Linked DNA regions of Homo sapiens: region 2 is linked to region 1. Evidence: fine-mapped expression QTL. Tissue or cell type: whole blood. Region 1 holds a variant in brackets; the other region holds the start of a gene. All regions are shown on one strand. Distances are between the middles of the regions.

Region 1 (5,928 bases):
AAGAAACAGCACAAACAATGGCTTTAGGAAGGAGGGAACCAAAGCTTGTTTATGAAGCAGGAAGAAGACCAGGGAGGCCAGAGTAGAGTGAGGGAGGAGGAGAGTGGGGTGAGGGAGGAGGAGAGTGGGGTCAGGTAGGGTCAGGCCACGCAGGGACTTGAAGGTCTTTGATGGGAGTTTGCATCTGGCCAAGAGGGATGGGCAGCCGGGGGAGGTTTTAAGCAGAGGATACACAAAACCTGGTTTCCACTTTTAAAAGTCGGCTTTGTAGCAAGGAGCATGAACTAAAAGGGGTCAGAAGTAGAGGCTGGGTACGGTGGCACACGCCAATAATCCCAGCAGTTTGGGAGGCCGAGGCAGAAGGATCATTTGAGGCCAGAAGTTCAATACCAGCCTGGGCAACACAGTGAAACCCTGTCTCTACAAAAAATTCAAAAATTAGGCCAGATGCAGTGGCTCATGCCTATAATCTCAGCACTTTGGGAGGCTGAGGAGGGCAGATCACCTGAGCTCGGGAGTTCAAGACCAGCCTGGACAATATGGCGAAACCCCTTCTCTACCAAAAACACAAAAATTAGCCAGGCACAGTGGCACGTGCTTGTGGCCCCACCTACTCGGGAGGCTGAGGTGGGAGGATTGCTTGAGCCTGGAGGTGGAGGTTGCAGTGAGCTGAGATCCTGCCACTGCACTCCAGCCTGGGTGACAAAGTGAGACCCCCTCTCAAAAAAAAAAAATTAAAAATTAGCCAGTTGTGGTGGCACACACCTGTTGTCCCAGCTACTCAGGAGGCTTAGGTGGGAGGATTGCTTGAGCCTGGGAAGGTCAAGGCTGCAGGGAGCTGTGATTGTGCCACTGCACTCCAGTCTGGGTAACAGAGCAAGATTCTGTAGAAAGAAAGAGGAAGAAAGAAAGGAAAAGAAAAAGAAAAGAAAAGAAAAAAGAAAAGAAAAGGGCCGGGCGTGGTAGCTCACGCCTGTAATCCCAGCACTTTGGGTGGCCGAGGTAGGCGGATCACTTGAGGCCAGGAGTTCGAGGCCAGCCTGGCCAACATGGTGAAACCCTGTCTCTACTAAAAATACAAAAATTAACCAGGTGTGGTAGTGCATGCCTGTAATCCCAGCTACTTGGGAGGCTGAGGCAGGAGAATCGCTTGAACCCGGGAGGTGGAGGTTGCAGTGAGCCGAGATCATGCCACTGCACTCTAGCCTGGGCGACAGAGCAAGACTCCATCTCAAAAAAAAAGTAAAGAAAGAAAGGATGAGAAGCTGTTAACCTGGACCAGTGGAAATGGAAAAAGAGCAGGGGTCACCAAACCATGGTCCAAGAGCCAAAATGGGCCCTTCGCCTGTTTTATTAAATACAGTTGGCCCTTTCAGCAACACGTGTTTAAACCGCACGGGTCCATTTTTTTCCTGATTTTTTTCAACCAAACAGTGATTGGAAATAGAGAATTTGTGGGATGCAAAACCCGTGTATATGGAAGGTCCACTTTTCATACTCACAGGTTTCACAAGGCTGACCGCAGGTCTTGAGTGTGCACGAATTTGGAGATATACAGGGGTCCTGGATCCAATCCCCCTCGGATACTGGGGGATGCCTGTAAAGTCTTACTGGACACAGCCACACCCACCTGCGGATGTGCTGCCTGTTGCTGCTTTGGGGCGACAACGGGCTTGCTGAATTGTGTTGACAGAGACCGCAAGGTTGGCCGGGTGCAGTGGTTCATGCCTGTAATCCCAGCACTTTGGGAGGCTGAGATGGGCGGATCACCTGAGGTCGGGAGTTCGAGACCAGCCTGGCCAATATGGTCAAACCCCATCTTTACCGCCACCCCCCCCCCCCCCAAAAAAAAGACAGAGACTGCAGGGTCTGCAAAGTCCACTTACTATCTGGCTCTTTATAGCAAAAGCTCATCCATCTGTGTTTTGGAGGAAGAGCCGATAGGGCTTGTGAAAGCACTGGGTATGCAGAGTGAGAGAGAGATGGAAGACTTCCTGAGTCTGAGCCATGAATAGCTGGGCGGTGCCATTTCTTGAGATAGGAATGACTTGGAGTGAGGGCCTAGGAGGGACACTAAGAAGAGAGTTGTTATTCTGGATGTGTTAAATTTGAGATGTCTCTTAGACATCCAAATGGAGTTTCTTTTCTTTTTTGGAGACAGAATCTCACTCTGTCACCCAGGCTGGCGTGCAATGGCACAATCTTGGCTCACTGCAACCTCTGCCTCCTGGGTTCAAGCAATTCTCCTGCCTCAGCCTCCTGAGTAGCTGGGACTACAGGTGCCCACCACCACGCCTGGTTAATTTTTGTATTTTTTTAGTAGACACAGGGTTTCACTATATTGGCCAGGTGGTCTCGAACTCCTGGCCTCAGGAGATCCTTTGGGAGGCCTTGGCCTCGCAAAGTGCTGGGATTACAGGCATGAGCCACCGTCGCCGGCCCCAAGTGGAGTTTCTAAGGAGGCAGCCAGATGTACAAGACAGGAGTATAGGCGCAGGAGGAACAAATGTAGGAGTTTCTGCAAACATGCCTGCCTGGCTGTTTGCTGAAGGC[A/G]GAGTCTCAGGTATCTGCAAACAGTTAAGTCAAATAACCACCGCTTCTACCACAAATGTCACCTCCAGTAGACACAGGCTGATAAACACTGCCATAAAGATAAGATGTCAAGACAACTACATTAGGGCTCTCTTGATCCCATTGGCATCTCAGCCAAGAGCAAACACCAACTGTCCGAATCCCACTGAGCAATAGTGTGGAATTCAACCTCCTGTCCTGCCCCGGATGTTACTTTTATTGACAGTGTATCCCTTACAACATCAAATTTCCCTTTCTTTCCTCCCCTGTTTGTTAATTTGTGATCAATTTCCAATTTCCTCTCCTTTCCTTTTTTCTTCCTTCTCGCTTTCACCCTTTCCATTTCTCCTAGCTTAGCTAGAATTAAATTTCTTATTTTCATTTTCCTGGGTAATTTTGTCTCTCCCATTTATTTTCTCTTCTCCAGGTATCCCCAGCTTTAATTCCCTCCTAAGTTTATCAGAGAATGACCCTTCGTCCAACATCATCAGGGCCCAGGTACAAGATTCAGCAGGTTCACTCTTCAGAGTCTATATGGACGTGCCAAAAACGCAGCCACCTTACATCGAAGAGGAGGTATTGGAAGAAGGGTTGAAGTGGATGTGAGATGAGATGGGTGAGAATTGTCTTACTGCTTTTATTATTTCAATTAGACAACTGAGGGCGAAAAGCCCTTGTGCCTTTTCCAGTGCATCCTTTGTGTAGACACTGTGATTATGTAACATATATGCTTGGCATATTTTGCAAATATTTATTGAATCATTTGGTTTGACAGCCAAGATCTATGGGACCCATGCTCCCAGATGCTAGATCACAGATTGCATAAGGAAAGAACATGTGGTGTCTACAAAATCTGCAATGTTGAAACTCTCCACTTTGGGCATTATCCTGGCTTGCTTTCTATATTTCTATTAAAAAGTAAAGAGAGCTGGGTAAGTGGCTCACACCTGTAATCCTAGCACTTTGGGAGGCTGAGGCAGGAAGATGGCTTGAGGCCAGGAGTTCAAGACCAGCCTGGACAACATAGTGAAACCCCCATCTCTACAAAAAATTTAGAAATTAGCTGGATGTAGTAGTGCATTCCTGTGGTCCCAGCTACTCCAGAGGCTGAGGTGGGAGGACCGCTTGGGCCCAGGAGGTCAAGGCTGCAGTGAGCTGTGATCATGCTACTGTACTCCAGTCTCAAATAAATAAATAAATAAATAAATAACAGGAGAAATCTGTCTGCTCAATGTTCTGAATAAGACTATACTGATCAGGACTGGGCGCTGTGGCTCATGCCTGTAATCCCAACACTTTGGGAGGCTCAGGCGGGCAGACCACCTGAGGTCAGGAGTTTGAGACCAGCATGGCCAAAATGGTGAAACCCTGTCTCTACTAAAAATACAAAAAATTAGCCGGGTGTGGTAGTGCGCGCCTGTAGTCCCAGCTACTTGGGAGACTGAGGCACGAGAACTGCTTGAGCCTGGGATGGGAAGGCTGCAGCGAGCTGAGATCATGCCACTGCTCTCCAGCCTGGGAAACAGAGTGAGACTCCGTCTCAAAAAAAAAAAAAAAAAAAGAGTGTGCCGATGGGTCTAAAGAAACTAAAATGTCAGAATATATCCACTGTGTTGAAAGACTGCCCTCCAGCATGCAGATGCTTGGCTACCAGGCATGGCCACCCCATGTGTCATCTGCCCCCAAATCACTGGATAGCCACTCCAACTTGGGTGCCCAAACTGACTGTAGAGACCCACCCTTAGGCAGAGATCAGGAAGCAGTGTGGGTACCATCCGAATGGTGCTCAGAATTGTTTGAGCCATCTGTTTCTTGATATTCTGAAATTTTCTTTGAAGCTAATAATGTGACAATGTAGAAAGATCAAGGACTTCTAGAGCCAGGGGATCTGAAGACAGGCACCTGTGTGAACTCACGCAGGTTGCTTGATGCTAAAGGTTATCACACAACACACATGAACTCATCCCTATACCAGAACTAAACTATGGCAATAAGGCGAAAAGGTGCCTCTTTCACTCAGGTACCTCCTAATACCTTGAGAAAAAAAGGCTCCAGGTTCTCATCTCTGTCTTGCTGTCCCCGGCACAGTGCCTGGCCCGGCTGTGGCAGCTGAGGTCTTTGCCCCTGATCCGTGGTTTTGATGGTCCCAGCTGATATGCAGAAGGCAGAGGAAGGGGGTGGTGCTGTCCTGGGAGGCAGAGGACAAGGAAAGGAGCCATGGAGAGGAAAGAGTTAAAGACACATTTCCTCCAGGGCCAGGAGCTTTTCCAGTGACCAGGCAGTCAGGTGACAGCTTCTGTCAGTGCTCAGTTCTGCAGGCAGAGGAACAACAGTGGCATCTTCAGGCCAGTCAGATGAACTTGGCCAGGGAAATACAGAGGAAAGGCAGGGAACACCCTGATTTCAAACCACACTCTGGACTAGGTGAGGTGGCTCACACCTGTAACCCGAGCACTTTGGGAGGCTGAGGTGGGAGGATCCCTCTAGCCCAAGAGTTTGAGACCAGCCTGGGCAACAGAGTGAGGCCCTGTCTTTACACAAAAATTAAAAAATTAGCCGGGCATGGTGGTGCACACCTGTTAATCCCAGCTACTAGGGAGGCAGAGGTGGGAGGATTGCTTGAGCCCAAGAGGTGGAGGCTTCAGTGAGCCGTGATTGCACCCCTGCACTCCAGCCTGGGCAACAGTGAGACCCTGTCTCAGAACACACACAAACACACACAGACACACACACACACTGCAGTGTTGACAGCTGGCCAGTTTGTCTTTTCTCTACCTGACTCAGAACACACACACACACACACACACACACACACACACACACTGCAGTGTTGACAGCTGGCCAGTTTGTCTTTTCTCTACCTGAGCTTACAGGTATTGTGCACAAGCGCAAGGACCATCCCATACAAAGCCCTGGGCCCCCCACTATCCCTGATATGTTGACATTTCTCCCCTTGCTGTAAGAAAGGCTTCAACCAAACTCTCATGGAGCTGGAACCTTAGTGCAGTGTATATCAGTTAGGGCTAGGGCAAACCAGGGAAACCGATTTTGATTTTCAAAGAAACAAAATTGATCAGTAAGACACTGCACAGTTCATAGAATCTCTGGGAAAGATGGGGAGGCAGGTTCAGGGGACAGGCAGGAAGGAAGGAAGGGAAACAGAACATTTAAAACCTAGACGAGCACACCACATGGTGATTCTGTCGAGGACGTCATTGTGGGTGCCCACGGCTGCCACCAGCACCACCGCCAGCATTAGCAGCTGGGAGCTGGAGCTAAGTTCACTGCCCTTGCTGTCCTTAGGGAGTGGATGTTGCCGGTGATACCTGTGCCACCACCAAAATGCAATCGCCCCTG
Region 2 (5,928 bases), 44 kb after region 1:
TTTCAACAATGGTGTTAACAACTGGCAAGATTACAGCTTCATGCTCATCCCTATCAGTTCAATCAATCAGATTACAATTTTTGGCATTAATGCCACAGACCAGGTTATGATTTTAGCAGGCACCCCTATAACTGATTATATTCTTCCCTAACCATCTAGGTGCAGATTACCAGTTAGCATCTGTTACTTCTACAGATGGTTGATTCCATCACGTTGCATTATTTCATTTCTCTCCAACCTTCCTGTCATCTCCTAGAGACTCGGCATAGAAATAATCTTAAGAGTATGGGCTGGGCACGGTGACTCACACCTGTAATCCCAGCACTTTGGGAGGCTGAGGCAGGCAGATCACTTGAGGTCAGGAGTTCGAAACCAGCCTGGCCCACATGGTGAAACCCTGTCTCTACTAAAAATACAAAAGAGTTAGCAGGGCGTGGTGGCGTGTGCCTGTAATCCCAGCTACTTGGGAGGCTGAGGCAGGGGAACTGCTTGAACCCAGGAGGTAGAGGTTGCAGTGTGCCGAGATCGCACCACTGCACTCCAGCCTGGCCGACACAGTGAGACTCCATCTCAAAAAAAAAAAAAAAAAAAAAAAAAAAGAGTATGGAAACTAGTGGTTTTCAAACTTTATTTTAAAAAGTAACAGAACTCTTTCTTTCTTACTGTAAAAAAATTCTCTCTATATAAGAGATAAAGGATCTGTTAAAGTAGGGACTCCCAGTCTGGTGAGGTGGCTCACATCTGTAATCCCAGCACTTTGGGATGCCGAGGCGGGTGGATCCCTTGAGCCCAGGAGTTCAAGACCAGCCTGGGCAATATAGTGAAACCCCACCTCTACCAAAAATACACAGATTAGCTGGGTGTGGTAGCTCACACCTGTGCTCCAGCTACTCAGGAGGCTGACGTGGGAGGATCACCTGAGCCTGGGAGGTTGAGGCTGCAGTGAGGCATGATGGGGCCACTGCACTCCAGCCTGGTCGACAGAGTGAGACTCTGTCAATCAATCAGTCAATCAATCAACCAATCAATCAATCAATAAGCAGGGACTCCCTCACTACACACTCACCTCTCTGCGGCTATCCAATCTACTGTGGGAGAGCCTGAAAACCCTTTTTTTTTTTTAGATGGAAGTTTCGCTCTTGTTGCTCAGGCTTGAGTGCAGTGATCTCCGCTCACTGCAACCTCCGCCTTCCAGGTTCAAGCGATTCTCCTGCCTTAGCCTCCCAAGTAGCTGGGATGAAGGTGCCCACCACCAGGCCCAACTAATTTTTTTGTATTTTTAGTAGAGACAGAGTTTCACCATGTTGGCCAGAGTGATCTCCAACTCCTGACCTCAGGTGATCCGCCCGCCTTGACTTCCCAAAGTGCTGGGATTACAGGCGTGAGCCACCGCACCCAGCCGAAAAACCACCGTCTTAGACCATCCTAGAGCTGGCAGAGCTGGCCCATCATACTCCATTAAACACTGGCAGGAAAAGCCTGTCCAAATCAAATAACTTCTTTAAAACATGTTGAGATTATTTGTGTACAAGATAAAAGGAATCTACTGCCAGTATAAATGCATTCAGATTAGTTATGTACAGTAGAATTTTTATTTGTAGGAAATATTTAGATTTTTTTTCAGATATGTGAGACACCCCAAGAGAATATCGTAAGTATAAACTGGGTTTGGGAAAGAATAATATGGCAGTCGGGTCAGATTCACTGTATCTAAAGATCTTGCTCCTAATTCCGATGGCATGTCTGTAATTGGGCCCCCAATTTCAAATTTAGTCCACTCTTCTTTTCTATACAAGGAGAGGCTTTATGCTCCACCTGCTACATGACCCAAATCAATAATCCAATGCAGCAGCTTGGGGAACCCTAGGTTTTCACTATGGGACCAAATAAACTCAGAATACTTTTGAGAACTTCAATCACATGAAATAATTATTTCAGAGAAGGATCCTTGTGGAAAGACCGTAACAGGAAGAGCATTCTGAGGTAACCTTTCCCAACTTTCTCCTCCACACATTCTTGCAGAGGAAATTAAGAGAGAGAAAAAAATTAAGAAATCCCAACTTAGTCCGGACTCTAGTAGTACATGTCAAGCACAGAACCCCTAATTTAAGACCCGCGTCCCGAGGCCAGGCTCCCTCGGGAAGGTAGCGAGTGCATCGCGATAAAATCTTTCCTCCCGCCTTCGGAGTCAAACGGCCCCGCAATCCAAACAGTTTAGAATCCAGCTTGTTCTTAATGCCACAGTCAAGAGAAGATCCATAACCCGCCTTGGTCATCTGCCCTTCTGTGTTCACAACCGTTCAGGGCACAAGTTCTTCGGTCTAACCGAATCTTTCCCTGCTGCGGGGTTAAGCCCAACCTTTCTTTCTGACCTTGGGGAGCCGGCAGCTCCCCGCCCGGTGCCCTCACAAAAGCCTTTGGGGGCTCCCTCTCCAAGATGAGACGTTTATCCCATCCCCCCACCCTCCTAAATTTAGGACAGGAAAGCTTTAGGGCCACCGTCTCTCTTCCGGGACCGATCACACTTCGTTCCAAATAGGAAAAGACAGGGGGGAAAAAAGATGGAGGGGCGGGAGACCTGGACCCCGGAGAGTCACCTTCCAGCTACCCACAGGAACCAAGCATCCGATCACTCGCGCATCCCTCTCCCCTCCTCCCCCGGCCCGCAGTGCACCCCACAGGGAGCCCCGCCGGGTCCACTCTTGCTCCGACCCCCATTTCGCGCGCCCCCTCGGCTCTATCTCCCAGATCCTCAGGCGACGAATGGAAAGGGGGTCCCTTCCCTCTCACCTGGGACGGAGGCGCTCGCTCATGGCAGCTGGCGGATGGAAGCTACGCGGCGCCGCTCCGCGAAGAGAGGGAACAGAGGGGGTTGTGTTTCGGCGGCCGCCACGCCCACCCCCTCGGGCCTTGGCTCTCGCAGCCGCTCGGGTGGACGCAGCCGGTGGCGAGTACCCCTCAGTCGGACCCGTACCACCACTACTTCCGGCGTCTGCTCCGCGCCCCCCCATGTCGCTGCCGCCGTGGTACCGCCCTCTCGCGGCTGCGCAGTGGCACCATCCCAACCGCACCGACTGGTAACCCCGCCCACGGGAAGAGGCGGGCTCGGAGCGGGAGGAGCGACTAGGAGCTTCTGGGAGAAAGGACCTCCCCTGGGGTGGCAGAAGCGCTCGCCTGTTCACAGCCAACGGAGGGTACGGTATAAAAGTCAAGCCAGGTTTCAAATAAATTCAATTATGTCATAATAATATCATACAAGTATTTGAGTTGAATCCGTGTAACATATTTTAAAACAGGCGGACCTATCCGGCAGTGGTGCAGACGGCCTGACGAGGTTCCTTGGCCGGGGGTTGGGCAGGGGCCTGGGGGGCTTCCCTGGGGGGCTTGTCGCCGGGGCCGCCTGGGCTTTCAGGTCTTCCGAGGTGAGGACGGTGCTCTGTGGGGAGCTTGCAAGGGCGGGTTTGTTTTCCGCGGCCCACGTTCTAAGTCTGGGGGAGACTCTCCTGAGCGGAGAGGGTAGGGAATCGGGTGCCGGGGCCGGCGGAGGGTCTTCCTGGAACCGCAGGAGGAAATCCTCGGTGGGGCTGCGGGAACGGCTGTCCCTGACCCAGGAGCTGCCGGGCCGACCCCATCCACTCCGCAGAATCAGAACAGCTGGCAGAATCAGAACAGCTTTCAGGGAAAGGAAGGGTGCGGGGAGGTGGGCAGGCTGGTAACGCAGCGGGAGGAGGGAAAGGCGGCTGGAGAGCGCCGGAGGTGAGGGTGAGGATTAGTGGAACTATTGAGGTCCTCCTTGAGCCCGGAGGCTGGGGAGGTCTTAACTCTCTGCTTTCCGGAACCTGTGTTTCTATTTGGTTCAGTATCGTGCCGCGTTTACTCACTGTGCATGCTGCCAAGTCACCTGTCTGATCGTGTCCTACACAGGCTGACATTCACGTTTCATTCTGCCACACTCGGGAACGGTGATCGGGGAAGCATGGGGATCCGGGAGAAGCACCCACAAAACTAGCATCCTCCTGGAGGAGCTCGGGTAAGAAAACAGACACCCACGTATAGACGTTATCGTGGGAATGTACCGGGATCTTTCAAGTAGGGTTGAGTGTGAGGTGGAGTGGAGGCAGAAACGTCTAGCAGGTGTCAAGCCCTTCCTAACGTTGTTAGCCGAAGGTCCATGGACTGGCTTCATTTGTGTGTATTATTGTAAACAAACAGTCTGTGGCTTTCATCCTGTTAGTGTGTACCTCCAAAGAAAGAAAGAATGATGGCTCACGCCTGTAATCCCAGCAGGCTGGGCGCGGTGGCTCACGCCTGTAGTCCCAGCACTTTGGGAGGCCGAGGCGGGTGGATCACCTGAGGTCAGGAGTTCAAGACCAGCCTGGCCAACATGGTGAAACCCCGTCTCTACTAAAAATACTAAAATTAGCTGGGCGTGGTGGCGCACGCCCTTAATCCCAGTAATCCCAGCCACGCGGGAGGCTGAGGCAGGAGAACCGTTTGAACCTGGGAGGCTGAGGTTGCTGTGAGCCGAGATCGCGCCACTGCACTCCAGCCTGAGTGATAGAGCAAGACTCCATCTCAAAAAAAAAAAGACCAAACAACAACAAAGTAAAAATGATTACTGTAATCTGTTGGCAGAAAACAGTTTTGTTTTGAAGGACTTCGTACAGGATAAGGTGGGTTGGTTGCTTTATTGAATGGATTGGTGAAGATTGTGTCTATTTTGTAAGTGGTTTCAGTCACCCTTTTTAATCTCTTTGGTAGTCAGAAGATATTATCAGTTGTAGTACTGAATAATATTTAAACGTTTATATCTAAAGAATTAAGTGAACAAATATTGTATGCCAGGCTCAGTGCTAGGTTTTTACATACAGCTGTGTGCAGGATAGATATGTTTCCTGCCCTCTGGAACTTTATAGAAAGAATAAGAGATGTAGAAAGGAAATAACTTTCAACTAAACATTGGAATTAAACATTTTCTTTTCTGGACTCTAAAGAATAACAGGTACAAATATACATGGTATAAATGTTTTTTTTTTAATTTTTTACATCGTATATGTTTAACAAAGATGTCAAACTAATTTGCCAGTAATCTGTTGTACTAGAAACTATAAGTAGGCCAGGCGTGGTGTCTCACGCCTGTAATCCCAGCACACTGGAAGGCCGAAGGCGGGCAGATCACGAAGTCAGGAGATTGAGACCATCCTGGCCAACATGGTGAAACCCCGTCTCTACTAAAAATACAAAAATTAGCCTGGCGTGGTGGCGCATGCCTGTAGTCCCAGCTCCTCGGGATGCTGAGGCAGGACAATAGCTTGAACCTGGGAAATGGAGGTTTCAGTGAGCCGACACTGCACTCCGGCCTGGTGACAGAGTGAGACTCTGTCTCAAAAAAAAAAAAAAAAAAGTATAAGTGAAAAACAGGACTGTGTCCTTGGCCATGTATATATTTGTGCATTATGCATACATTTTATGTATATCTGTGTGTGTGTGTGTGTGTATATGCATATTACTAAATGTTAGTAGAGCTTCATTTCTCATTCTTTGATTGTGGTAATTCTAATATTTTCTTCTTACACCCTAGTGCATATTCTATTTATCACTTTGGAAACCTCTGCTGTAATCAGTAACCTTTGGCTGGGCGTGGGCGTGGTAGCTCGCGCCTGTAATCTCAGCACTTTAGGGGGCTGAGGTGGGTGGATTGCCAGAGCTCAGGAGTTCGAGACCAGTCTGGGTAACACGGACACGGTGAAACCCCGTCTTTACTAAAATACAAAAAATTAGTCAGGCGTGGTGGCATGCCCCTGTAGTCCCAACTACTTGGGAGGCTGAGACGAGAATTGCTTGAACCTGGGAGGCGGAGTTTGCAGTGAGCAGATATTGTGCCACTGCACTCCAGCCTGGGTGACAGAGTGAGACTCTGTTTCCAAA

The links. PIP is the estimated chance that this variant, and not a neighbour inherited with it, causes the effect.
Region 2: MTNAP1 starts here. The variant in region 1 is fine-mapped to the expression of MTNAP1 in whole blood (TOPMed, PIP above 0.99). The same link has a PIP of 0.9 or more in lung.

The regions. Positions count from the first base shown.
Region 1 is chr17:73,184,841-73,190,768 of GRCh38, forward strand. No RefSeq gene overlaps it. Among named protein-coding and RNA genes, the nearest start is that of COG1, 5.2 kb to the right of the region's middle. The variant A/G (reference allele first, on the strand shown) is at 2,554.
Region 2 is chr17:73,229,296-73,235,223 of GRCh38, forward strand. MTNAP1 (mitochondrial nucleoid associated protein 1) reads left to right here and starts at 3,138. Exons shown (of 6, transcript NM_001351264.2): 1 at 3,138-3,194; 2 at 3,925-4,030. It overlaps VCF1 (VCP nuclear cofactor family member 1), which reads right to left and starts at 3,099. Exons shown (of 4, transcript NM_001098832.2): 1 at 2,791-3,099. The coding sequence starts at 3,011. RefSeq lists an enhancer at 1,816-2,592.